Homo sapiens: one gene and its partners. The protein of the gene in region 1 purifies or fractionates together with the protein of each later gene. This does not show direct contact. Each region holds a gene or a part of one and is shown in the gene's direction. Other genes may lie near its edges. The genes, in order: TSPAN8, SERPINA12, ZDHHC20, POTEF, NSUN5, GPAT4 and FAM241A.

Region 1 (3,500 bases):
GTAAGTGAAAATTCTTTCAATATCTTGGCATTGCAATGTATCAGAGCTGGGAAAACCACTCAGTCTTGGTTCTGTTTTTCTCAGCCATTTTTTTTTCCTCCCATTTCTGCACGAAGTGTTTTCCCCTTAATTGAGCAGATGGAAGCAACATGAGGGATAATTATCTTTCTTTCTCCCATCTAATAATATCATGTGCCACATGCCCTGATTCTTGGGGTTATCATTTCCTTGTTTTTCTTCCTCAAATGTGGCTGCAAACCCTCTTTTTTAGTGTTTTCCATGGATCAGTTTATTCTGGGACTGTAACTTTCCTGACATTCTAAGAGCTTCATTCTTCATTTGTGTTCCCTCCCATATTTTAAAGATGTTCATAAAATTCAATCTTATGGGAGGCTCCTTGAGCATCTATTTGGGTCTTTGCAATATCTCTCATTTTTTTCCTCCTGTCTTTCAAAAGTGATCAGAGATCATGGAGTGGAAATTTCACTTTTAAAACTTCATGTCTCTTTTGAGCAACAATTCTTTGACTCTCTTGTGAATTCTTTGGAAACTTTTTTGACAATATCTAAATTACAGAGATCTGACTCTCTTTTGTCATTAAAAACTAGTAGGTGAGGCTGGGCACCGTGGCTTATGCCTGGAATCCCAGCACTTTGGGAGGCTGAGGTGGACAGATCACGAGGTCAGGAGATTGAGACAATCCTGGCCAACATGGTAAAACGCGGTCTCTGCTAAAAATACAAAAATTAGCTGGGCGTGGTGGTGCAGCATGCCTGTAATCCCAGCTACTCGGGAGGCTGAGGTAGGAGAATCCCTTGAACCAGGGAGTTGGAGGTTGCAGTGAGCCGAGATCGCGTCACTGCACTCCAGCCTGGTGACAGAGCAAGACTCCATCTCAAAAAAATAAAAATAAAAAACCTAGTAGGTGAGTTTTTCATCTTCCCAACTTCTTCAGATTTTTGAGTCTGCAACTCCATTTTTCCATCATTAATGTAAAGATCAAAATGCAAAAATCCTTAATTTTTACTTCTACACAGAGAAAGGTGAAAGGTGACTTACATGGTATTTTAGCATAATAACCTTTAATAATGATTTCAGAAGATTATAATTTAATGTATTGCCAATGTTTTTAATCTTCTTACTGACTGCTTCTCATTCTACCTTTTATCAAACAGTTTAAATGCTGCGGTTTGGTCAATGGAGCTGCTGATTGGGGAAATAATTTTCAACACTATCCTGAATTATGTGCCTGTCTAGATAAGCAGAGACCATGCCAAAGCTATAATGGAAAACAAGTTTACAAAGAGGTGAGAACTAAATCACATTTGGTACAATAAGCAATTCTGTTACTTTCTTTTCACAATTAAAGTCCCTACAAAAAATTAAAATGCATGGAGTACCATGGGAATCATGATATAAAAATCTCAGAAATTTCCCAAATTAAAAAAATCCTTATTTAAAGATAAAAGCAGATAGACTTCATTTCTTCTATGAGTCTGGCATCATTTAAGCCCAATATTAATAGGTCAAAGAAACATTCTACTGCAATGGGAGGCAAAGTACAAACTAACATAAAAGTTTATTTTATCCTCTCTTTGGTCATCTTAATCATTATTCTCTTTTATTTTTTCCTACTTTAACATAAGTTCTAGAAAACAATATTTTCACTACAATTTTCAATGTTTTTTGTTTTCTAATCAAATTTCCTTTTCTCAAGAAATGAGGTTTCTTCTTTCCCAAAATTTAAAGAAAGGACTCCAAGTCCTTCCCAAATACATTTAAGGGTTTAGGTTCTCTATGTTACTGACAGCTACCAATTTACCTAGTTATTGCTGCAATTGAGAAGTTACCTTGAACATTTAATGTCAATTGAAAAAGATAGGTTAATCTTTTATGTGTTGTAGATGTCATATTTATGTGACTTGTGAATGTCAATACATGGATGTCCTAGTTCTTCTTATTGATCAGTTCATCAAATACTTACTGACCACCTCCTATGCGCCAAGCTTTCTACCAGTCACCGGGAATTCATTCCTGAACAGAGCACAATGTCTGCGCTCATGGAGCTGATGCTCAAGTAAGGAAGAGAGAAAGATAGTTAGGCAACTTCAATCCAATGGTCTACTAGTATCTCTTGGATAGAGATGGGTGCAAGGTGTTATGGGACCCCATCTCACTTAGTCTGTGGGGTTCAGGATATGGCTTCATGAAGAACATGACATCTGTCCCTTCATAAGTTGTTCGTTCTGCTTAGAAGAAATGTGTACAAAAATTACAATTGATATTAGTATTTCATTTATTTACTGTTATTCTTCAGTGCCTACTACATGTCAGACAGACCCTTGCTAGGATCAGACATGCTTCTGGATCCTCTAGGAGATTACAATCTAGTTGAGAGGCAGATACATTAAAAACCACTATAAATCACAATGAATTAATATTAATATCTATAATACCCGAAGATTCTTTTCAATCTAGAAATGTTTTGGTTTAGTAACTGCTACTGAAAATAATTTATAAAAGGAAATAGAAAGTATCTCAGGGGAAACTACCCTTTCCTTGACTACTGATCTTTTTCACTGATCTTATCAAAATTAAAGAGGCTCTGCCCTGAAGGGGAATTGCTGTCATTAATACTTAAAGTATGTCGCTAAGATTTAAAGTAACTCAATAAATAATCTACCAGACTACAGGTTATATTGCGTTTTTCATTGTCAAAGTAATATTACTAAAAAAAGTTTGATTCTTACTTTTTATATTCTCCCTGCTCCCCTCCTCCCTACCTAATGTTAGTGACACAGTATTTACAAGGAAAAGGGGAAATAAATATAGAGTAAATAAAAATAGTTTCCACTTAGGATAATGAGGAAATAAGTAAATTCAATTGCAGATTGCTATTTGTCTCCTGTTCAAATTCAACTGAAAGATGTTTTTCCTCAAGACAGATTCTGAAAAGCCCCTGGAATTATTCTAAAAAAACTATTAGATAGTTTCTGTAAGTTCACACATAATTCAGCTGAATATAGGCTGATAGCTACACCAGTTTCCCAAAAGGAAGGTTGTAAATTCATAAAATACTTCCATCTGCCATGTGTCATTTGCAAGAAGTCTGGTAAAATAAAAAATATGGAATGGCCATAATTCACATTTCTTTTTTTTCCTCTTCCTTTTGCCAAGATACCCTCATTATCTTAGGCAAAGAGGAAGAGAAAAACCCCTGAAACATAATGAATGTGACTCAGTAGATATAATCATTAATCTCATTGTTAACCTAAATGACATAATAATTTCCTTGAATGTTTACCACGTTGGGTTAAATGTGAATGAAGAAACTCAATACATTCAGGAATGAAGGGGAAAGATGACTTAGCCTTCTGGAGAAATTTTATTTTATTTAACAAATAGCAATACTTTGTTAGCCCTTTGCACATATATGACCATCAAAGGGATAATATATTTCAGGGCAGTACAAAAATAACACAATTATACTGTGTAGTCTT
Region 2 (4,247 bases), on another chromosome or scaffold:
ATATCATTCTTATACCTGTGCTCACAGCTTAGCTCCCACTTATGGGCAAGAACATGCAATATTTGGTTTTCCATTCCCGAGTTACTTTAGTTAGAATAATGGCCTCCACCTCCATCCAAATTGCTGTAAAGGACATTATTTCATTCCTTTTTATGGCTGAGTGGTATTCCATGGTGTGTATATACCACATTTTCTTTATGGATTTATTGTTTGATGGGCACTTAGGTTGGTTCCATATCTTTGAAATTACGCAACATGTGTGTGCATGTGTCTTTTTCATATAATGATTTCTTTTCCTCTGGGTAGATACCCAGTAGTGGGATTGCTGGATGAAATGGTAGCTCTCCTTTTAGTTCCTTAAGGAATCTCCATACTGTTTTCCATAGGGGTTGTAGTAATTTACATTCCCACCAGCAGTGTAAAAGTGTTCCCTTTCACCACATTCATGCCAACATCTATTTTTTTTATTTTTATTTTTTACTTTTTAATTATGGCCATCTTGTAAGAGTAAGGTGGTATCTCATTGTGGTTTTCATTTACATTTCCCTGATGGTTAGTAATGTTGAGCAAATGCTCTTTTTTTATATCCTCTGTTGTTCTGCTCTTCTACCAGCATCTAGATCTGGCTTGAATGACATTTAGCACGGACTTGGGTCTATATTATTTTAAGTGAAATTGATTGACAGCATGACTTCCAATAGTTTGGCTCTCTCAGGCAACCACAGATCCAATGCAGTCTCCTATTGCCCATTGTACAGGTGAGTACACTGAGAACCAGAGGAAGGGATGGCTTCTCCAGCCACCAGGTGCATTATGAGTCACCTATGTCTGGTACCCAGACCACAGGCCCAGGCCCTGAGACGTCCCAGAGCTCGGGAGTGGGGTGGGGTTGGATGGATGGGCTGCCTGCTCCCAGGCTGCACCTGGGAGGTGAGAGAGGGCCATGTGAACATCTGTGCCAGGCGGCTGGTATTCTATAGCAGTGCCAGGGTGCCCACACCCATTCCTGTCCTGTCCCAGGGAAGGAATCTGGGGTGGACGATTCTGCTCAAAGATGATCACAGGGATCAGGGCTGTGGAGCTGGGAGGGGATGGCGTGTGTCACTCTGGTTTCTGGTGCACTCACTTTTATGAGGTTTACTGGGTGCCAAACACTCAGGTCCTAGCAAGCCAGGCCCTCATCAGTGAATCTACAGAGCACCTTGGGTGTACCTAGCACAGTGCCCCTTGCTATTTGGGATGGGAGAGAAAAAGTAGGCCTGATCTTTCCCAAGGGGTGAGGAAGGGAACTCCCAGACGCATTGCTCTCTGAGTGAGACACTTGGCAGGGCCAGTTGGCCAGGCTGATCCTGGGAAAGGGGTGGAGGTGGCAGAGGCAGGCTTAGTAGGTCGTTGGGCAGAAGTCCACCCAGTTTGTAGATAAGGCTTGTGGGGCTGGGAGCCTAGAGGAACATACCTGGAACCTGAAGGCTGCAGGACCAGGACCGAAAAAGGACTAGGAGGCTGGGATCAGCAACAACTGGGGAAGGCCAAGGAAGACTGACCTGAGGGGAAAGGAGAAACTGGGGAGGTGAGGTTAGTCCAAGGGGCAGTGTGTGTGTGTGTGTGTGTGTGTGTGTGTGTGTGTGTGTGTGTGTTGTCTGTTTCTCTGTCTTAGAGAAGACAACCAAGGGCCAAGGTGATCACTCAAATAGACAGACATTCTGCGTCCTTCTCATGCCTAGCCCTAGGGCTGGATCACCAGTCTGGCCAAGAGTTCCATGGGTCTGTGCTGGCTGCCAAGATGCTGTGGCCATGCTTTCATTTATGGTCTACCAGAAAGCTATCCATGGAAAAAGGGATTCAGAACCAGAAGACCTGATTTTTGAGTCCTGAATCTGCTAACTGTGCAGCTATAGGAAACTCAGATTTCTCATGTGTAAAAATGGGTCTAGCAGCACCCAAACTTGCAAAGTTGGTATGAAAAATACATAATGTCTATGAATAACCGTATCTACTAATATGTGCATGGAAGTACCCTGTTCTGCAGAGACAAAGACAAAGAAGAAAATAAGATGAGGAAAATCAAAGCTGGCCCCCACCCACAATGTTTCAATGCATATTTACCCAAATTTTTTACTTTTTGCTGATTGAGAAACACATGTGGTTACTTATTGATATATATAAGAACTCTTAATTGTTAAGAACATTAGCTCTCTATCTTGTACACATGTTCCAATTTGTGATTCCAAATTTTACATATTCTGTAGAGTTTTAACACGTTGCAAAAAGATGGTATATCCATATATGCCATCTTTTCCTACATGGTTTCTGGCTTGTGTATCACACTTAGGAAGTTCTTTTTCACTCTAACATTATGAAAAGGTTTTATTCCAACACTTGTAATTTTATTTTTGAAATGATTTGTTTGTTTCCTAATAGCATTTATGGAATTGTTCACCTTTTCTCGAATGTTCTGAAATGCCATCTTGAATTTTTTACTATTTACAGAATGCTTCCCATTAAAAAAAAATTTTCTAAATTTTCTATTTCTCTCCTTTTATTTCTTACTTGTTTAGATTTTTGTGTGGAAAGATTTTCAACATTTTGTACTAGAAGCTTTTTAGGGTAACCTAGGATCTTACCGGAGATTGCTTAAAAATATTTTCTTTCAAAATCAATTATTATTAATTTTAAATCATTTATTGATTAAGCTCCCCAATTGGAGTTGAATTCAATGACTGAAAATACATTGCATTTACTCAGTCTTTGCCTTATTGCTTGGAGGTACAGTATAATTTGTTCTAGTGGGATTTGGGCTTTGCAGTGTTTCACACTCTTGGTCACTGGCTCCCATAGCTGTCTGTCACAAGCATCAACTGGGGATCCTGTGGAAACCAAAGAAGAGTGGGGACACCCAGGGAAATGCAAAGTATGATCTGGGATGGTGGCCAGGAATCTCTTTCTCTCTCTCCCTTCTCTACTATAAATGGACATCTGGGTTGTTTCCACTTTAGGTCTATCACATAAAGCTGCTATGGACATTGCAGTACATGTCTTGGTAAACCCACAAGCACTCATTTCCTGTTGGGCATATACCCTGAGGTACAATGAATGGGTCAAAGGGTAAGCATATGTTTACCTTTTATAGATCCTGCCAAGCAATTTTCCAATCAACACGTTGGTGTCGGTTTGCACACCCACCCGCAATATAAGAGAGTTCCACTTGCTCCACGTCCTCGTGTGGCTGGTCCTTTTAATCTGAGCTATTCTAGTGGGTGTGTAGTGAGTTCTTCTTGTAGTTTTGTTTTGCATGTTTCTGATGATTAATGATGTCGAGCACCTTTTCAGCTGCTTATTGGCCATTTGGATATCTTCTTTTGTGAAGTATTTGTTCATGTCTTTGCTTAGTTTTTAAGTTGTTGTCTTTTTTCAGTCGATTTGTAGAAGTGCTTAAAAACAGGCATGAGCCTTTTATCAGACACAGACATTACACGTACCACTCCCAGCTTGTGACTTGCCTTTGTACTGTCCTAGGTAATTTTAGAGGAACAAGGCTCTTAATGTTAATGAAGTTCCATTTATCATTTTGTAAAAATGGTTAATACTTTCTGCCTATCTCATGGTCACAAAGATTGTCTACTATTAATATATTTTCTTCTAGAAGCTTTATCATTTTGATTCTTGTGGGTTTTGAGGTTAAAAAATATTAAAGACCAATAGTTTCATATAGTCCAATCTAATACCTTTCACATTTAGGTCTGTGACTTCTCAAATTAATTTTTGTATGTTGAGTAAAATAGTCACTATTTATATTTTTCCTGTATGGACATCCACTGGTGTTTTGTTGTTGTTGTTGTTGTTTTCATCATTCATTGAAAGGATCATCCTTTCCTTTGAACTGTAGCGATGCCCTTGTCACATATCAGGTGACTTCCTGTGTGGCTCTGTTGGATTCTCTAGTCTGTTCCATTGGTCAGCTTGTCTGTCTCTGTTCCAATACCTTAATACTGTGGCTTTACAGCCATCTTGATACCTGGTGGCTGAATGCTTTAAAAGACCTGGGAATCATCAGGTGGGAATCACTTGCTTTGGAGTGGGATTCTCAACCTTGAGTACTCATTAAATCCCCTGGAGAGAAGTTCTTAAAGGCACCCTCACCCAGGATTTATCCTGCATCAACTAACTCAAAATCTCTAGAGGAATGTTCTGAAAATAGGTATTTCTAAAGCTCCTGGATGATTGTAATGCACTCCCAGGATGGAAAC
Region 3 (4,206 bases), on another chromosome or scaffold:
CCTACTGTCAACTAGGCCACTAACTAATATGACTTTTAAGGCACAAAATCAGGGAGAACAGAATCTTTTATACATGCTTTATTACTCAAGCAGCAGTGTGCAGTGATTAAATACTTACTCGCTTTTACTACATTTCTCTGACACAGCAAAGGGTGACGTCTTCTTCATGGAGACTTTAGTGAGCAGTAGCTAATTTAAAGCTCAGTGTAGGCCGGTCGTGGTGGCTCACACCTGTAATCTCAGCACTTCTTTGGGAGGTGGAGGCGGAGAGGGGTTGGGATTCCTTGAGCCTTGGAGTTCAGGGCCAGCATGGCAACAGGGCGAAACCTAGTTTTTACAGAAAATACAAACATCAGCTGGGCATGGTGGCGGGCCTGTAGTCCCTGCTACTCTGCAGGCTGAAGCAGGAGGAGTGCTTTAGCAGGGAGGTCGAGGCTTAAATGAGCCCAGGTCGTGCCACTGCACTCCAGCTTGGGCGACAGAGCGAGAAGACCCTGTTTCAAAAAACAAACACAAAAATTCATTCTAACCAAAACTGAATGCTAGTAGCAGGAACTGGTATGAAGATTGCGGTCTGGAATCCCTTCTAATGCGTCTGACCTTGCATTGTGAAGTCTTCACAGTGATGCTTCTGGGTTCTATATGATTATCGTCATTGCTTAGCAACCTCTAGTTGTAAATAAATTCTTTAAATTTCCTTAGTCGTTTGCGGGGCAAGGAGAGGGTCATTTACATGCCCTTTCCTTCTCGCTACTCAATCTTAAATTTGGGTTACGAATCAAACTGATGGACCCTACATGGCTTCTACCCGAAATTACAGGTATCTACCGTTCCATCTTCAAGAAAGGGAGGGGTTCCGCCAAGATGGACGAACATAAAAATCACAGGAGGAGCCTTCTAACAATGTGCATTCTTCGCACACTGAGTGGGGAATGGCCTTGTCATGTTTGAAACAGTGCCCCAACTACTCAATGTCCCAGGAACCCCAGTGGAGCGAGTTCTGTACACAGAGAGGGCCAAGATCCACAAATCAGCTAAGGAATCATTTCCATAGTCTCCCTCCCCTATTGAGTCTCGATCCACAAAAGCTATCCCCTGTCCCTCTCATCCATCAAGGGCGTGTTTTTCGCCTCTCCTTCCCCGGCCTCCCGCGTCCGCCCAGCCTGTCCGCATCCAGCCCCGCCACGCCCCATGGGCGGTCCCGAGCTGCGGCCCCGCCCCCTCACCGCCTCCCCGGCCGCGGAAACCCCGCCCCAACGACGCGGAGACCGGGGGCGGCCCGCGGCCCGCGGCGGGCGGGCTGGCGGGGACGGACGCGGGGGGAGGGGGGCGACGGGATGTGGGGTGGGGGCGGGGCCTGGCTGGGCGCCGGGACGGGAGGAGTCCCGGCGGCGCCTCGGACTTTTGCTCCCACAAGTCCTGCCTCGGAGGCGGGGGAGCTGGACCAGCAGCCGCCTGGAGCGTCCGAGTCACCGTCGCCGGGGCTCCCGCGCTCCCCAGAACGGTGGGACGCGGGGCTCGGCAGCCGCCAGCGGAACATGGCGCCCTGGACGCTGTGGCGCTGCTGCCAGCGCGTCGTGGGCTGGGTGCCGGTGCTCTTCATCACCTTCGTGGTCGTCTGGTCCTACTACGCGTACGTGGTGGAGCTCTGCGTGTGTGAGTACCGTCCCCGGGGACTGCGGCGGGGCGCGGGCCGCGGCTAGGGCGCGAGATAGGCCTCTGCGCCCCACACCCGCCGCCTTTCTGGAGCCAGCGCCGGACGCCGGGCGTCCGGCCCCGAACGCGCTCGGAAGCGCCGAGGTTGCTGCACCCGCCGCTTTGTTCAATCCTGCGGCGCGGCCTTGGGGCGACCTGGGGCTCCTGAAGCCTTGCGGCGGCTTCCCGGGTGCAGGTCTGGCCCAGGGAGGCCCCAAGAGCTTCCTGGTTCCCGCCGACACCGGGGGTCTGCATCCTTCTGGGAAGGAACGTGCAGAACGGGAGTAGTCGAGCTTCTTAGAAGGTTTAGGTTGTGTTTGTGGCTTTTTTGGCTTTTGTTCATTTTTTTTAAAAAACCAAATCTGTTCCTTCTGGATTGTTTTTGTTCAAACTGCGCGAGAAGAAACGCCTGTTACCTGTAGAGCCGGCTGTGGCGGGTTGGGGGAAGGGAGGTGTGTCTTTTGGTGGCCTCGGGCTGGAGGCGGGTCAGACCTGGAGGACGAGTAAGCTCCCACTTTTGATTTTTGGTGGTACTCGACTCATTGTAAAATTCGTTTATTTCTACTCTGAATCCAGCCGGCTTTTGCAGAAGGTTAAGACAGAAAGAATGGGTGGGAGGAGACATAACCTGATTATTTTTTTCTTGGCTGATTATTAAGGAGGCTTATATTTCTTATACTCATATTTTGGCGTGTTAATTTTCGTTACTTCCATTTTCCTGATAAGTTCTTAGCACAAAATTCTCATCTGATTCCCTGGAAAAAAGGAGTAGCATTGCAGTATACTTCAAGGATTTAACCTACTGGCTTGAATTGGTTGCCTTTAAGATTGAAGGAAATTGGTTGTCATTAATCAAAAACACTGTTTAGGGGTGACTGCTACATTTGTGATATTGGGCAATTTCTCCAACATTGTTTTGTCTTAAGTAAATTGTTCTTAGGCTTTGAGTATGTGGGTATTTTACACTTAAACTGGCCTCAACTAGGGTGTTCTGTATACATCTGCTGCCTATATCAATTTTTTATGAAAACCTAGGACCAAATGGTAAGTGGTGTTTGTAAACGTTATTGTTATTCCAGAATGTTCTACTCTTAGTCCTTAGACTGAATCTACCATTTTATGAAGGACTGTTAAGTGTTCTTTGAATAACGAACCACATCAGCTAGAAACTAATGTTATGAATGAGAAGAATCTGTACCACCCACTCTTGAAAGTGGCAGAATCAAGACTTCAATTATGTTTGGATTTGTACAGCTTTCAACCAAGTATTTGGTTAAAACCCTAGTTCTATACATGGAAGAGAATGCTTTGGCTCAGAAAATTTATAAGTTTTGAAATTAAAACATCCAGTTTTAAAATTACTTTGTACCTATAGAACGTTTAATTTTGGGACGACTATCCCTGCAGGTAGGCCCAGAATAAATTAGTTGTGGAATACATTTCCAAATAATATTAATCTTTTCAATATCATTGTTTAGTCTCATGCTTTTGGATACCAGAATGTTTACTAAAAATGATGTTTGAGTCAATTAAAATTACTAGATTTTAATATTTCTGGGAGCTACTTCCAGAAAGTGGTAGTGATCATAGGATTCTCATCAACTTATGATGATACCTCCTTTATCTTCTTATTTACTCTGAAGTGGGCATTTATTCTAAAAGTTATGTCATTCCTATTCTGTCAGAAGATTATTCCTACCGTATTTTAATTCCCGTAGTGGTTTTGAAGTAAAGCTGAAGGAACACTAAAAATGTGCATTTATGTTGAGATTCCACAGCTTAACCTGTAGATGGTTTTTGTCAAAAATATTAAGAAATGAGATCAAACAGTGCTGTGAAAAGTCTTAAATTGCTTCTGATTTCTTTCACCACTTCAAATAAAGAAGGAGAAATGAACATGAATTGAGAAGTGCCATGTGCTAGTGGGCATAGAGGGGACATTTCATTCACCCTCTCCTTTAATTCTTTCAGTATGTCACAGCATAGGTATCTCTACAGGTGGAGGACGTGAGACTGAGCGAATAGGTCCTTTTGGTTAGGTCACACAATTGATTATTGGAATGTGACCCACATCTTTCCGTTCTTTCATATAACTTCAGTAAGCTATGAGGGTCAATGGAACTGTAATTGTTTGGTCCATAATGGTGTGGGGGGATAAAGGGGTTGGCATATTTTTGGAGATCACTTAGTTAGGCTTGAGGCCCATTCTGTAGAGATTATACCCTACAATTTCATTAAGTTAAAACATTCTATAACTATGGCCTGATGCTTGGCAGAATCTTAAAATATTTGGTGGTGAAAGGTCTTATGTAGAGGCTGTATTAACTTCTGAGTTATCTCATTTTAACTAGAGAGAATTTGGGAGGTCTGCAGTGTCACTGGAGTATAAAATAGTTGAGCATAAAAGTGCATTTACTCATATTAAAACTATCCTTTAAACTACTTGTATGTATTTGTTTTCATAAGTACTGACCCTCCCACTGAAATATGTATAGATATATTACTTTATAG
Region 4 (3,500 bases), on another chromosome or scaffold:
GGGCTCATTGGAGAAATTTGAGCAGGGGAGCCACAAGATTAAATTTGAGTATTAAGGCATTCTGGTTATGGTGTAAAATGGGTTAGCAAGCTTTTTCTTTAAAGGACCAGGTGGGAAATATTTTGGACTATGTGGTCTCTGTCATATCTACTTAACCGTGCTGTTGTCTGCTGTTGTAGTGTGAAAGCCACCATGATTATATGTAAGCAAACAGGCATGACTGAGCTCCTATAAAACTTTATTTACAAAACCATAATGCAGATTGGATTTGGCCTGTGGCCTATAGTTTCCTGGGATTGATGGGAGATAATCATGCAAAGAAACCAGGAGACAAAGGAAGCTTTTGCAGTAGTCAGCTATAGTTTCCATGTCACACATCCTTGGAGTAGCATCAATGTATTACAAGGTTTTCACCCGTCCATGGTAAAATAAATAACGTTAGAAATCTCAGTTACTCATTTTACTATGTTGGCCTTCGTTATGCCTTTTTCACTTGTTTTGCTTAATTTTTTTTCCTGTAAGAAATAACATTAATAGTTGGCAGTTTTCTTTTAAATAGAAGTCATTTTGTAAATGTTTGTGTTCCCAGTGGCAGTGGGAATATAAAACAGAGGCAGAAGAGAGGTATAGTCAATATGATTTAGTGATAATTGAATGAGAAAGGCTTGGGGGACAGAGAGAAATCTCAGATGATGTACAGGTTTCCAGATTGCACACTAGTATTTAACCTGGACATGAGGAAGGAGTAGGAAATTTTCTGGTGAATACAGGAGAGCAAAGAGCAGCAGGTCAGCAGGAATGACTAATGTTTTTCGATGCATGTTTAATGGAATATTCGTGTAGGGTATTTTGAGTAGGTAATTGGATAATCAGCATTTATAACTCGCATCCTACTAGTTTGACTCTAAGTAATAAGACTTGTCAAAGATCCAAGAATCTGAAAGTCAGTAATAAATGTCCATGTGCATCATCGTCCGTGACAGAAAGTCAGCATCCACAGAACACAGAATTGGGACAGATGAACTTAATAGATAAAGATGAATATCGGAGTTGTTCCTCTTAGGGAATGATACTCTCCATGACCTGTGTGAGTCACAGCTGCCAGAAAAGAAAGAGCAAGGAGCGTATGAAGGCAGCACAGCAAATTCGGTCCTAGAGTGCCCTGCTTGGCTTCATGTCATAGTTCTGACTTCTAAATAATCATTTTCTGCAAAATGTGCTTTTTGTTTTTCCCTCTTGCCGCCTGCAGCCAATCAGAATCTTTTTAGCAGGACATAATGAAAAGAAGTAAGAGAAAGAGTGTTTTTTTGTAATGGGATAGTATTTAACGTAAACTTGAGAGTGAGTACCAGGATTATACTTAGAATTTATGGACTGGATGGGAAGACTGGATAGAAATCTAAAGATTGCTGACTCAAACACAATGTGGTTTCTTTGATTTATTTTCACAGCTCTGAATTCACGACTGTTAATTGTATTCATATGCATTATAACTTTACAAAGCATCTTCCGAAACCAAATATTTACTGATTTATTATAATTTGTATGACTTTATTATAGAACTGACTTTCCAAGTGTTCATGAGAATTGTTTAGAATTTGCTACATTGTATCATCTCAGCTGTGTCCACATGAGCTATCTGTCACCTTGTCTTAATGAATAATTGTTCACTAGGAATATTGGTTTTGGCATTGAAATGATCTATATCTAAATGCAGATAGGACCCGGGACCACTTTTGAACATTAATGTTCAAGCATCTTAAAATTACACATAATGCTTTCATAATCTGACTTCTGCCCCACTCTCCATCTTTAGCCCTTTTCCCTGTGTGCCCTGTCTCTGGCATTACTGAACTGCTGGCAGTGCCCTACTCACTCATCCTTCTATTGTAGGCAAATACTTTCACTCTTTCAGGAGTCGCTCCCGCTCTTGCTGCTGCGTGGCATGCCGTCACCCTTTCCTGCCCTCTACACCTTTTAATCTGGCTAGTCTCAATATTTAAGTCTCTGCTTGGGCATGTGTTCTAGAAAAGCCATCTCTGACATGCTTTATTTTAATTCTTTTTAAACCCTAATGCCTAGCATGTATTTAGCAGGACTCAATAAAATATTTCTGAGTAAAACAAAGACTGTTTTTACAAAGATGATGTGCAAGACTCTCCCCTGCAGTCTTGGAGCAGAGGGGACAGACGTGGAGGAATAATGTACAGTTTAGGTGGTCAAGATGCAGTAGAAAAATCAGTAAAGTACTAAGGCAGCCTCAAGGAAGGAGGTACCTGTTTATTTGGGGAAAGACATGCAGAATCAAGGAAGACTTCATATAGCATTGTTTCAAAAGATGAAAATAAGGCCAGGTGTGGTGGCTCACACCTGTAATCCCAGCACTTTCAGAGGGAATCACGAGGTCAGGAGATCGAGACCATCCTGTCCAATGGTGAAACCCCATCTCTACTAAAAATACAAAAATCAGCTGGGTGTGGTGGTGCTTGCCTGTAATCACAGTTACTCAGGAGACTGAAGCAGGAGAATCACTTGAACCAGGGTCGCGGAGGTTGCAGTGAGCTGATCACACCACTGCATTCCAGCCTGGTGACAGAGGAAGACTCTAGCTCATAAAAAAAAAAAAAGAAAAAAGAAAAAAAGAAAATAAATTTGTCAGAATAGTGGAGAGAAACATTTTAGATATTAGGAAGATGTTGTACACTAATAAAGGTGTCAGCAGTGATTTTGGAAATCATTTATAAGGTACTATTAGGAAGTGGAGAACAGTACACTGTGTCACCTTATATGTTTCTACTGTATTTTAAAGCTGTGTTTCTGGTGGTTTTGTTCATGGATGTTGGGTGGATGAATTTGTGAGGGAATTTTTGACATGTTTGTTTGTCTTCAATCTGGTGACATCTGCTATCTCCCCAAGTGGGTTTTTGAAGTTTTTGAGAATTATTTCTTAAATGACAATTTCACAAAAGATGAAACACTCAATTTATGAAATAAAATGAAATGTCTCAAATCTGTTTTTAAAAGGCAATAGTTTTTAACTGTTTTAAGTGGTTGATTTTAACTGAATGTATGGATTTTTCAACAGAACAAGACTTAAAGCTGACATCAGAGGAAGAGTCACAAAGGCTTAAAGGCAGTGAAAATGGCCAGCCAGAGGCATGGAAACTTTTAAATTTAAACTTTTGTTTAATGTTGTGTTTTTTTTGCCTTAATAATATTAGATAGTCCAAATGAAATTACCTTTCAGACTAGGCTTTGAGAATCAGTAGATTGTTTTTTTAAGAATCTTTTGGCCAGGCAAGGTGGCTCACGCCTGTAATCCCAGCACTTTGAGAGGCTGAGGCAGGTGGATCACGAGGTCTGGAGATCGAGACCATCCTGGCTAACATGGTGAAACCCCGTCTCTAGTAAAAATACAAAAACTTAGCTGGGCGTGGTGGTGGGTGCCTGTAGTCCCAGCTACTCGGGAGGCTGAGGCAGGAGAATGGCATGAACCCAGG
Region 5 (4,062 bases), on another chromosome or scaffold:
TAGGATTACAGGTGTGAGCCACCACACCTGGCCAGACTGATCTTTTAAAGAAGTATATGTTAGCACAGCACTCCATGACTTAAAAACCTTAAGAGGACTACCATTTCTTTCAAGATAAAAGAATAAAATCCTCGCTGGGCACAGTGGTTCATGCCTGTAATCACTGCTTTGGGAAGCCGAGGTGGGAAGATCACTTTAGGCCAGGAGTTCGAGACCATCCATGGGCAACATGGTGAGACCACATCTCTACAAAAGATAAAATTAGCTAGGAGTGGTGGTGCATGCCTGTAGTCCCAGCTACTTGGAGAGTGAAGTGGGAGGATCGCTTGAGCCCTGGAGTTTGAGGCTGCAGTGAGCTATGACGGTGCCACTGCACTCCAGCCTGGGTGACGGAGTGGGACCTCATCAAAAACAAAAACAAAACCGTTATTGTGGCTTTGAGGCCTGGATCATACCTACATCACTTAATTTGGCCAAACCGGCCCATTTCAGGTACCCAAATACCCCACGTGCTTTCTTGCTTGGCTCTGGGACTAATGTGGTTACTGGTGCAGGGTGAATGGCAGGTATTGTAAACCACATTGTGGACCTAGAGTTGCTAGGACCTTTTTTGCCATTACACAGAAGCCTCCCTGAGAACACAGCCATTGGATGACACATGGCAGAGGAAGATAAGACAATAAACGGAGACACAAAATTATGGCCAGCGCGGGGGCTCATGCCTGTAATCCCAGAACTTTGGGAGGCCAGGGTGGGCAGATCACCTAAGGTCAGGAGTTCAAGGCCAACCTGGCAAACATAGTGAAACCCCATCTCTACTAAAAATACAAAAATTAGCCAGGTGTGGTGGCGTGGGCCTGTAGTCCCAGCTACTCGGGAGGCTGAGGCAGGAGAATTGCTTGAACCCGGGAGGCGGAGGTTGCAGTGTGCCGCGATTGCGACACTGCGCGACAGAGTGAGACTCTGTGTCAAAAAAAAATTATATATATATATATATATATATAATGACTAATACACATGTGAAGATATTTAACCTCAGTAACTTCAGTTAAACAGCAGTAAAATCCCATTATTTGCCCATCAGATTGGCAAAAACTTAAGAACTAGAGAAGAAGTGGCGAAACGGGCTGCAGCGTCGCACTCCCTACCCCGGCAGGTGCGCGATCACACACACGCCTTGCAGGGCGACTTCGACCGGCACTTCCGGTCCCGGAAGGTCGTGCTTTTTGACCCCGGAAGTCCGGGCGGGCGCCGAGCCGGGTGCGTTTTGCCACAGAGCCGTAAAGGCGCGCGGGAACATGGGGCTGTATGCTGCAGCTGCAGGCGTGTTGGCCGGCGTGGAGAGCCGCCAGGGCTCTATCAAGGGGTTGGTGTACTCCAGCAACTTCCAGGTAGCGGACCTGGGCGCGAGTAGTAGGGGTGGGGAGTGAGGAACCCGGGGTGGGGTCGGACGGGCCCGGGTGGGGTCGGGAGGTGGGGCCCGGCGAGGAGGGCCGGGGGAGCCCCCACCCAGCTTGTCTTCCTCGGCCACACAGAACGTGAAGCAGCTGTACGCGCTGGTGTGCGAAACGCAGCGCTACTCCGCCGTGCTGGATGCTGTGATCGCCAGCGCCGGCCTCCTCCGTGCGGAGAAGAAGCTGCGGCCGCACCTGGCCAAGGTGAGGGGAGGGGAGGGACGGGGAAGTGAACCCCGACGGTCAGCGCTTTGTCATCTGGTCTCAGCTCTGCTGCCGTGCACGGCGGGACTGGAGCAAGTCGCTCATCTGAAATGAGTATGAGCCGACCTTCCCTGGGTTACGAATTAAGATGGGATGAAAATGCTTTAACTTTGAGTGTTTTGAAGGATTAAATAACCGAAGTACAAAGTGGTAGTGGCGGAGACTGTAAGGAAGTCGGGCGTGGCGGCGCGCACCTGTGGTCCCAGCTACTCGGGAGGCTGAGGGAGGAGGATCACTTGAGCCCAGGAGGTCGAAGCTGCAGTGAGCTATGATCTGGCCACTGCACTTCAGCCTGGGCGACAGAGCTAGACCCCATTCTAAAAAGAAAACCCAAACCCACGAAAGGGTAATGTTGGCAAGAAGTTGGGTGCAGAGGTGTCTACTGGTGAACATCGGTGGAGAAAGGGTCTAAGGCTGGGAAGCGAGACGCCAGGTTCCGATCCTGTTCTGTAGTTAATTTCTGGTGTGATCTTGGATAAGGTATCCCACCTGTATCTTGTCAGGTGATCTGTTTAGCCATTCCATTGCCGGGGCTCCATTAGAGTTAGTTCTAAGGCATTCATGCTTCATGCTTAGGGCATTTTTGTTTTTGTCTTTGTTCCCTCATTCCCAGGTGCTAGTGTATGAGTTGTTGTTGGGAAAGGGCTTTCGAGGGGGTGGGGGCCGATGGAAGGCTCTGTTGGGCCGGCACCAGGCGAGGCTCAAGGCTGAGTTGGCTCGGCTCAAGGTTCATCGGGGTGTGAGCCGGAATGAGGACCTGTTGGAAGTGGGATCCAGGCCTGGTCCAGGTAAGCTGGAAGGAGTTGGGGGGTGGGGGAGGCGGGGAACTTTGCTCCTGCCTACTCACTGCTCATTGCGTCCTACGTAGCCTCCCAGCTGCCTCGATTTGTGCGTGTGAACACTCTCAAGACCTGCTCCGATGATGTAGTTGATTATTTCAAGAGACAAGGTTTCTCCTATCAGGGTCGGGCTTCCAGGTGAGAGCTTAGAGCCCTGGCTGTCCTCATCTAGGGAGGTGTCTGGGGTATTGGGAAGAGAAGTGGCTGGATAGTTGTGACTTTGCTCTCTGGGCTTTCTTCCTACCTTTCCAGCAGTTTATCCATCTCCAAGGTTTGTCTTCCTGCCATCCCTTAAACATCGAACTCCTAGGAGCCTCATCCTACATTCTTCTTGATCTCTCCGTTTTTTCTCTAGCTTTAACTCCTGCCTCCCACCTGGTGATTCTCACCACCCAGTGTAGACTTCCCTCTTGCATTCTTACCTCCTCAGGTTCATATGAACGCACCACAGATGCTAACAGTCGCTGCATTTGTCATCTTTCCTCTCAGACTTTACACCTAGTACATCCCCAGTTAAATCTAACAGATGTCACCATCTTCCACCCATTTGGTCAAGCCAGAAACTGAGTCATCCTAGGTGCTTCCTTCTCCTCCCTCCAATCATTTACTCCCCTACCTTGAGCATCTTTCTCAGCTCCACTCCTTTCTCTCTTTTTTTTTTAGACTGAGTCTCACTCTGTCATCCAAGCTGGAGTGCAGTGGCATGATCTTGGCTCACTGCCTCCCGGGTTCAAGCGATGCTCCTGCCTCAGCCTCCTGAGTAGCTGGAATTAGAGGCTCCCACCACCAATGTCCAGCTAATTTTTGTATTTGCAGTAGAGATGAGGTTTCACCATGTTGGCCATGCTGGTCTGAAACTCCTGAACTCAGGTGATCTGCCCGCCTTGGTCTCCCAAAGTGCTCGGATTACAGGCGTGAGCCACCACATCTGGCCTCCACTCCTTTCTCTTCAGCCCCTCGGACACTGCCTAGGTTAAGCACTCATTTCTTATTGGGATGACCACAAGAACTTCCCAGACTGGTTTCTCTGCTTCCAGACTGTCTCACTGCATTTTCCTTGAGGTTGACTGTAGGAAGCTCTAAAGCCAGATCTGATGCTGTTACTCCTCTGCTAAGCTTTTTTTTTTTTTTTTTTTTTTTTTTTTTGAGACAAGGGTTTTGCTCTTGTTGCCCAGGCTGGAGTGCAATGGCGCAATCTCGGCTCACTGCAACCTCTGCCTCCTGGGTTCAAGCAATTCTCCTGCCTCAGCCTCCTGAGTAGCTGGGATTACAGGGATGCAGCACCACGCCCGGCTAATTTTGTATTTTTAGTAGAGACGGGGTTTCTCCATGTTGGTCAGGCTGGTCTCGAGGCTCCTGACTTCAGGTGATCTGCCCGCCTCGGCCTCCCAAAGTGCTGGGATTACAGGTGTGAGTCACCGTGCCCGGCCATGCTAAGCCCTTTCTTGGCTCCACTGTGCTGTCCCTCCTGCTTTCTCTCAGGTCCATCTGCCACGGTGCTGCGT
Region 6 (3,500 bases), on another chromosome or scaffold:
CCAGAACAGCAGCTCTTGAACTTAGGCTGCATCAGCATTGCCTGCAGGGATTGTTTAAATGCAGATTGCTGGGCCCCACACCCAGGGTTTCTGAACTTCCTATTCTTTTTCTTTTGAGGCAGGGTCTCAGTCTGTCACCCAGGCTGGAGTGCAGTGGCACAATCATGACTCATGCAACCTTGACCTCCCACATTTAGGTGATTCTTGTGTCTCAGCCTCCCAAGTAGCTGGGATTACAGGTGCACACCACCACACCTGGCTAATTTTTTAATTTTTGTAGAGACGGAGTTTCCCCGCGTTGCTCAGACTGATCTAGAACTCCTGGACTCAAGTGATCCGCCTGCCTTGGCCTCTCAAAGTGCTGGGATTATAGGCCTGAGCCACCCCGCTGGGCCTTCTGATTTTCCATTCTAACATGTTCTGGGTGGCATTGATGGTGCCAGTTGGGACCACACTGTGGCGGCCACAGTTCTGAAGCAGTGGCTCTTAGCTGCTGTCAGAACACGAACCCTGAGGAGTTTCCGCTCCTCTCCAAAGTAAAATGCTTATAAATTTTAGATACATTTCCATTTAGTCCACAGAGTAGAGCCCATGTATGGCTAAGAACATCTGGTCTACAGATTACTGGTTTTTGTGAACTCTTTATTGGTAATCAAACTTGGATAACCTTAGCGATTTCAAGGCTCTTCTTATATTTCCACCGGAATCCAGCCATGACCTGATGTGAGGAGTGTGTCGCTGTGTTGAGCTTCTGCCTTTTTTCTCTGTCCACACACACTGCCCAGTGTGGAATAGAGAATCAGCCCGAAACAAAGGGTTCTCACACTCTGGTGACATCAGAATTTCTGTCCATATCAGGCTTTATAAAATACAACGACATGACCAGATGCAGTGGTTCACGCCTGTAATCCCAGCACTTTGGGAGGCTGAGGCCGGTGGATCACTTGAGGCCAGGAGTTCGAGGCAAGCCTGGCCAATATGGTGAAACCCCGTCTCTACTAAAAATACAAAAAAATTAGCCGGGCGTAGTGGCAGGTGCCTACAGCCCCAGCTACTCGGGAGGCTGGGGCAGGAGAATGGCGTGAACCTGGGAGGTGGAGCTTGCAGTGAGCCGAGATAGCGCCACAGCACTCCAGCCTGGGCGACAGTGTGAGACTCTTGTCTCAAAATGTATATTATTATATATAAAATTAAAATTAAAAAAATACTTTCTGATCATACACATTGCTTAGTTTTAAAAACTTATTATTTTCCCTTGTTTCTGTTGGTATTATAATAACACATTAAGTCTTCTGTAGTTAAATCTAATTTTCTTAGCTTCTATAATTAAGCCTAAGTTATCTTCATTTTTGTAGTTAGGGCCACAGTCTTGTCAAAATTGTCCAGTATTTATACTGTGGATCATAAAACTTAGGCTGGAAAGGCCTATAAGATCATAGAGTTCAACCCTAGCCCATCCCACATGCAGGACCCTGCCCTGGGCTCCTTCTCAGGCTTTCCCAGGGAAAGGGCATTTTTGATGTTGTTGGCAGCATGGCCGTGTGGCATAACTCTTGAAATTCTGGCTCCTTTATTTTTCCACTCTGGTCCTGGGTGTTTGCACAAGGTCAGCCTACTGCCTTGTGTACAGGATCCCTTCAGACATTCGCTGGCAGCACCAGGCACTTTGTCCAGGCATTCTCAAGCACCCAGGTCCTCCTGTTGCTCCTTGCGCAACTTCCTCTAGAGCTTACCTACCCTGCTCACCTGCCCCTCCAGCTACTTGTTTGGTGAGAATGTGGGTCACAGCTGCAGCTACATTTTCTGCAAAATGCCAATGAAATAATGAAAGGATCTGATACCTGCTTCATGGTAGATGCAGGCCTGTGTGGTTGAGACCTCCCAAGGCTGTCAGCGTGAGCACAGAGCCGCCTCCTGAACAGACGACTGACTTTGTTGGAAGTGTAAATGTAGAAGCTTTCTAATAGTTTCCTCCCTGGTCTGGGCACCAGAAATCATATTTAAAAGTTGGTGTTTGTGTAAGAAAATATCTTTATTTGGGGGAGGTACACTAGATGAATGACAGGATGCTGAGAGGGGACAGGTGGAGCAAGTGGGAAACGTTGGCGGTGGTTGAATCAGGGAATGGGTACATGGGAGTGCATGATCCTTTTCTCCCTGGTTTTGGAGATGTTTGAAAACTTTATATACCTATGAGTAAGACCTGAAACTAATCAAGGAGGGAAGACATTTGCTTGAGGCAGGCTGTCAGGGGAGCCTTCCTTACTGATCTGTAGCAGAGGCCGGGTTCCTCGGGGGAGATCAGTGTTGCTCACAGTCAGAACCGGCCACATGGAGAGGGGCTTCCACAGTACTCATGCAAGGTCAGGGAGCAGCACCCCAGTACCAGCACGGCCCAGTGGAGTCACTCACAGCAGTCACTGTGGACTCGCAAACGTTGTGAGAACTACTCATGTCTTACCTCCAGCTTTCCATTGTTTTCAGTATGACCCTCAATTTGGCGATGCCTTCTGGAACAGCAGCAAATACGGGATGGTGACGTACCTGCTGCGAATGATGACCAGCTGGGCCATTGTCTGCAGCGTGTGGTACCTGCCTCCCATGACTAGAGAGGTGAGTGCCTGCCCCAGGCAGGTCTGCGCCTGCTCTGTGTAACGTCAAGCCGGGGCTGAGTGGTCTCATTTGTTCTTTCTTACAGGCAGATGAAGATGCTGTCCAGTTTGCGAATAGGGTGAAATCTGCCATTGCCAGGCAGGGAGGACTTGTGGACCTGCTGTGGTAAGTTTAGAGCCAGGCCTTTTCAGCTGAGTTTCTGCAGCAGATGCTGTGTCATTGACTTCACTTACATGTCATTCCCCGTGGTGTGGAGAATTAAACTTGTCAGCTCTAGAGAGAGCAGTTTGACTCTCCCCGAATTCCAACCCAGAAGTGCCCTGTGCTTCCTTGACCTTGGGGAACCTGGATCAGGGATGCCTGGACTGAGGCAGTTGATTCTGTGTACCTTTCTGGGGTTTGAACCAGTCTTCCAGGACACCTGGACAGTGCCCATCTCTGGGTGGGCATGACCTGCTACTGATCTGAAAACTTCAAGAAGGAAGGAGGACTTTCCCAGGTCCCAGTGTATCTGGCAAAATTGAACCATTCTTAGAAAGGTAAAGGTTGTGTTTGGTGTATTCAGCTTGTTACCTAATAGAGCAGGATTGACATACTTTTTCTGTAGTCAGTAAATATTTTAGGATTTGCAGGCCATATGGTGTCTGTTGCAGCTACTGATGATCTCTGCCATTGTAGTGTGAAAACAGACAGTCTATAAACCAATGAGCATGGCTGTGTTCCAATAAAACTTTATTTACAAAAACAGGTATCAGCTGGATGTGGCCCGTGGGCTGCATTTGACCAGCCCTTATACTAGAGTATGAGGTAGTTTTATCCCAAACAGTAGGAGACTGACAGGGGTCAATGCTGGTTCAGAGAAAGTTTTCCACTCTGTGGGGCATTTA
Region 7 (3,500 bases), on another chromosome or scaffold:
TCAAAACTAAATATTAGTTTATACTCACTTCCTTTCACGTATTTTAAAAGCAGTTTGCAAGCAATATTGTAATAAGTGCTATGAGCTTAGTTGAATTCTGCCCTAACTTAATCTCATCTTGTTCCTAAGGACATCCAGTCACTAGAGTAACTCAGGGAATAATTTTGCATTTGATAGGCATCTTTTGTTCATTTTTTTAAATCATCCAGACTGGAACTTCTAAATCAGTGGTTCTCAACTGGGGGCCTTTTGTCCATAGGGGGCATTTGACAATGTCTGGACATTTTTTTATTGCTGAAACTAAGGAGGTGGTACTGACATCTAATAGGAAAAGGCCAGGAATGCTGGTAAACATCGTATAATGCCATAGTCCCCTACAGCGAAGTATTATCTGGCACAAAATTTCAATAGTGCCAAAGTTGAGAAACAATATTCAAAATATGTAAGGGTTACAGTCCTTTGAGTTGTCAAAAGTAATTACTCTGATAATAGATATTCCAATAGATAGGTTAAAATTGTTTATTTGCTTGAAACCTGTATTTTAAACAGAATTTCAAACTTTTCTCTGTGTCTCTTCTAGCAGCTCCTCGTATGCAACTTGCTGTATTTTGCTTTCTCACACATTCCTTTTCTGCCTTTCTTTCCTACCACCCATCTCCTTTCTGTCTCTGTTGAGTCTCGTTCTCTCATGTGTTTTTTCCCTCCCCACGCATCTCAACCACTTTCTCTTCTTCTGCATACATCTTCCCCTACCTCTTCCACTTCAGTGCAGAAGCTGAGCATTATGAAACAATGAAAAGGGGGTTGAAGTATGACAGATCTAATTTTGAATCCCGGTTTTACTCTTTATTAGCCCCCGTGATCCTGATTACTTAATCCGTCAGAGATTCAATTTCCTCATTTGTAATGGGTATGATGCTACCCACCTCTTAAAGTTTTTATGAGGATTCAGTCTCATTTTGTATGTAAAATGCCTAACACATGGAGGCACTCAATAAATATTTGCTCCTTATTTCTCCCTCACCTTTTCTATTTTTCTTCTTTTTCTCTGGTTTTCCTCCCCTTATTTCCCTCAACTAACACATCATAGAACTGTGTTTTTAGTACATGTAATTCTCAAATTTATAGAATATTTATTGAACAAAGTGTTAAGATTGTGAAACAATGTATCTAATGTTTAGAATAGACAATCTCTAAAGAAAAAATTAAACCTGTCAACCTAAATTATGTTGTTTTTTATGTAGATCTCTAGTTGGTTTCTTTTCCCCCTTGTTGCTCACTAATCCTTGAGAGGAAAAATACCCACCTCCTCTGTACAAACTATTCTCAGTTTCCTATTCAAAAGAAGTGATAAGGCAAGATTAAAAGGAAAAACTCAAAGTACCATGACATCAGTCTTGCTGTAACAGAAATATGTAGAAATTCTGTGTCTCTATTCATGTGTTCTTTAAGACTTAGCAACACTGTCTTCATTTTCTGTCTTTTCTGGAGTCATAATCTTATCTTCCAGTAACAGCCACCTATCTCCGAAAACCTTGTTCCTACTAGTTATGTTTTATTTCATTGTGTTTATGTGTGTTTGAGAGAATTAATAAGACATTTGAAATGTAGCTTCTTTTGAGCAGATAAACCGAGTTTCTAACCAACCTGATGCAGAAGATACTTTCTATCTTCTGATCTTTTTCCCCATACCCAGTGTTTCCCCCGGCACCGCCCCCAGCCATTTAACTTCATTGGCAGCTGAGTCTTATCTTGGCATAGGAAGAGGAAGTGATTGGCTTTATTTCTTGCTGTTTTCTTAGGGCAACAACTGCAGCTTATCAGAGTTCTAATCAAAAGGAAAGCATGGTACAAATGTTTTTAACTTTATGGAAAATAAAGGATAAAATTATCATTAATACTTAATATCTAAACATAATGTTAAGAAAGTTAAATTCCCATTGTGGTTTTTACAGTATTTATTTTCATGTAACTTTTTAAATATCTGTGTTTGAGAATTTCTTTTATTTCCTCTTCCAATTAATCCAAAATAATTTAATTTTTGTTTTGTATCCTCTTAATTAAATTTTACTTGAATGTCTGCAGATGGCCTACAGAGGTAGGGAATTTAAGTTTGATGTTGCATGATTGCAAATTCCATCAGTCTGACTGAATTGAGGATTTCTTATTCCATGAGTTTTAGAGGTAATAACAGCAGAAGCGAAATTTTCACTGCCACAAATTGAGAATTGAGAAGGAAAGTCATTTTTCAGGAGAGATATTTGATTTTGACTACTTTTTTCCCCTAAGTTTGATACTTTATTTTTTAAAATTTATTTCTTATTTTTTTATTTTTGAGACAGAGTCCTTTGTTGCCCAAGCAGGAGTGCAATGGTAGGATCTCAGCTCACTGCAACCTCCACTTCCCAGGTTCAAGCAATTCTTGTGCCTCAGGCTACCGAGTTCCTGGGACTACAGGTGCATACTACCATGCCTGGCTAATTTTTGTATTTTTAGTAGAGATGGAGTTTTGCCGTGTTGCCCAGGCTGGTTATGAACTTCTGGCCTCAAGCAATTTCCCTGCCTTGGCCTTCCGAAGTGCTGGGATTACAGGCATGAGCCACCGTGCCCAGCCTGGCTACTTTTAATGGATAAGTTTACCCATCTTGTAGTAGCATCTAGCATATTGTCCTGCATATGCAAGGTACTAAGTAATGTCACCAGAGATTTCATATTTTTTTTTAAAAAAGTAGATTCTTGAAAAAGTATAAAATGTAGAAATGTCTTAACCTGCAGTTTGAAATCAGAAAGAGGCTTGAGCAGGGTGTGGTGGGTCATGCCTGTAATCCCAGCACTTTGGGAGGCTGAGGTGGGCGGGTCACCTGAGGCCAGGAGTTCGAGACCAGCCTGGCCAACATGGCGAAACCCCGCCTCTCCAAAAAGATACAAAAATCAGCCGGGTATGGTGGGGAATACCTGTAATCCCAGCTACTCAGGAGGCTGAGGTAGAAGAATCGCTTGAACCCAGGAGGCAGAGGTTGCAGTGAGCCAAGATCGCAAACTGCACTCCAGCCTGGGCGACAGAGCAAAACTCCGTCTGCGCCCACCACCCTCCCCCGCCACAAAAAAAGAGGCTTGAGTTAGGCATATTCTTGAGTTCGTGGCCCACAGTTATATATCATTAGTTCATGAAAAGCCCTTCTCTTATTTAATTATTTTTCCATTGCATAACCATTTCTTTCTCTACAATAGGCAGCTGTTCCAATACGTCTGTTAGATATTACTGAAATTGAGTGTATCTTTTTGACTACCTGGTGGTTTCATTTGTGTGTCTGCAATTATGACTTATAATTTTAAAAATATTGAAGCCCGGTAGTTAAAATGAAAAATGAATGCAAATTTTGGTATTTTTCTGTTTATAATCATTTCAAAGACTAAGTTCTAGTTGATATTCTCATTGTTTTTATCCATCCCCTCAAAAAAATCTTTTTTCTTTTATTGGGTCTATGTAGTTTAGTGGG

The links.
Region 2: the proteins of TSPAN8 (region 1) and SERPINA12 purify together in Homo sapiens (affinity purification with mass spectrometry; one large-scale study listed by BioGRID and IntAct). This does not show direct contact.
Region 3: the proteins of TSPAN8 (region 1) and ZDHHC20 purify together in Homo sapiens (affinity purification with mass spectrometry; one large-scale study listed by BioGRID and IntAct). This does not show direct contact.
Region 4: the proteins of TSPAN8 (region 1) and POTEF purify together in Homo sapiens (affinity purification with mass spectrometry; one large-scale study listed by BioGRID and IntAct). This does not show direct contact.
Region 5: the proteins of TSPAN8 (region 1) and NSUN5 purify together in Homo sapiens (affinity purification with mass spectrometry; one large-scale study listed by BioGRID and IntAct). This does not show direct contact.
Region 6: the proteins of TSPAN8 (region 1) and GPAT4 purify together in Homo sapiens (affinity purification with mass spectrometry; one large-scale study listed by BioGRID and IntAct). This does not show direct contact.
Region 7: the proteins of TSPAN8 (region 1) and FAM241A purify together in Homo sapiens (affinity purification with mass spectrometry; one large-scale study listed by BioGRID and IntAct). This does not show direct contact.

What each region holds. Positions count from the first base shown.
Region 1 is NC_000012.12:71,130,500-71,133,999, reverse strand, and holds part of TSPAN8 (tetraspanin-8), read left to right. Parts: intron 1-1,175; coding exon 1,176-1,307; intron 1,308-3,500. UniProt on the Homo sapiens protein: Structural component of specialized membrane microdomains known as tetraspanin-enriched microdomains (TERMs), which act as platforms for receptor clustering and signaling.
Region 2 is NC_000014.9:94,506,670-94,510,916, reverse strand, and holds the start of SERPINA12 (serpin A12 precursor), read left to right. Parts: upstream 1-1,447; 5' UTR 1,448-1,575; intron 1,576-4,247. UniProt on the Homo sapiens protein: Adipokine that modulates insulin action by specifically inhibiting its target protease KLK7 in white adipose tissues.
Region 3 is NC_000013.11:21,456,504-21,460,709, reverse strand, and holds the start of ZDHHC20 (palmitoyltransferase ZDHHC20), read left to right. Parts: upstream 1-1,406; 5' UTR 1,407-1,538; coding exon 1,539-1,656; intron 1,657-4,206. UniProt on the Homo sapiens protein: Palmitoyltransferase that could catalyze the addition of palmitate onto various protein substrates.
Region 4 is NC_000002.12:130,087,723-130,091,222, reverse strand, and holds part of POTEF (POTE ankyrin domain family member F), read left to right. Parts: intron 1-3,085; coding exon 3,086-3,156; intron 3,157-3,500.
Region 5 is NC_000007.14:73,306,027-73,310,088, reverse strand, and holds the start of NSUN5 (28S rRNA (cytosine-C(5))-methyltransferase), read left to right. Parts: upstream 1-1,262; 5' UTR 1,263-1,298; coding exon 1,299-1,391; intron 1,392-1,535; coding exon 1,536-1,658; intron 1,659-2,331; coding exon 2,332-2,506; intron 2,507-2,586; coding exon 2,587-2,695; intron 2,696-4,062. UniProt on the Homo sapiens protein: S-adenosyl-L-methionine-dependent methyltransferase that specifically methylates the C(5) position of cytosine 3782 (m5C3782) in 28S rRNA. m5C3782 promotes protein translation without affecting ribosome biogenesis and fidelity.
Region 6 is NC_000008.11:41,616,200-41,619,699, forward strand, and holds part of GPAT4 (glycerol-3-phosphate acyltransferase 4 isoform 1 precursor), read left to right. Parts: intron 1-2,484; coding exon 2,485-2,613; intron 2,614-2,698; coding exon 2,699-2,778; intron 2,779-3,500. UniProt on the Homo sapiens protein: Converts glycerol-3-phosphate to 1-acyl-sn-glycerol-3-phosphate (lysophosphatidic acid or LPA) by incorporating an acyl moiety at the sn-1 position of the glycerol backbone. Active against both saturated and unsaturated long-chain fatty acyl-CoAs.
Region 7 is NC_000004.12:112,151,954-112,155,453, forward strand, and holds part of FAM241A (uncharacterized protein FAM241A), read left to right. Parts: intron 1-3,500.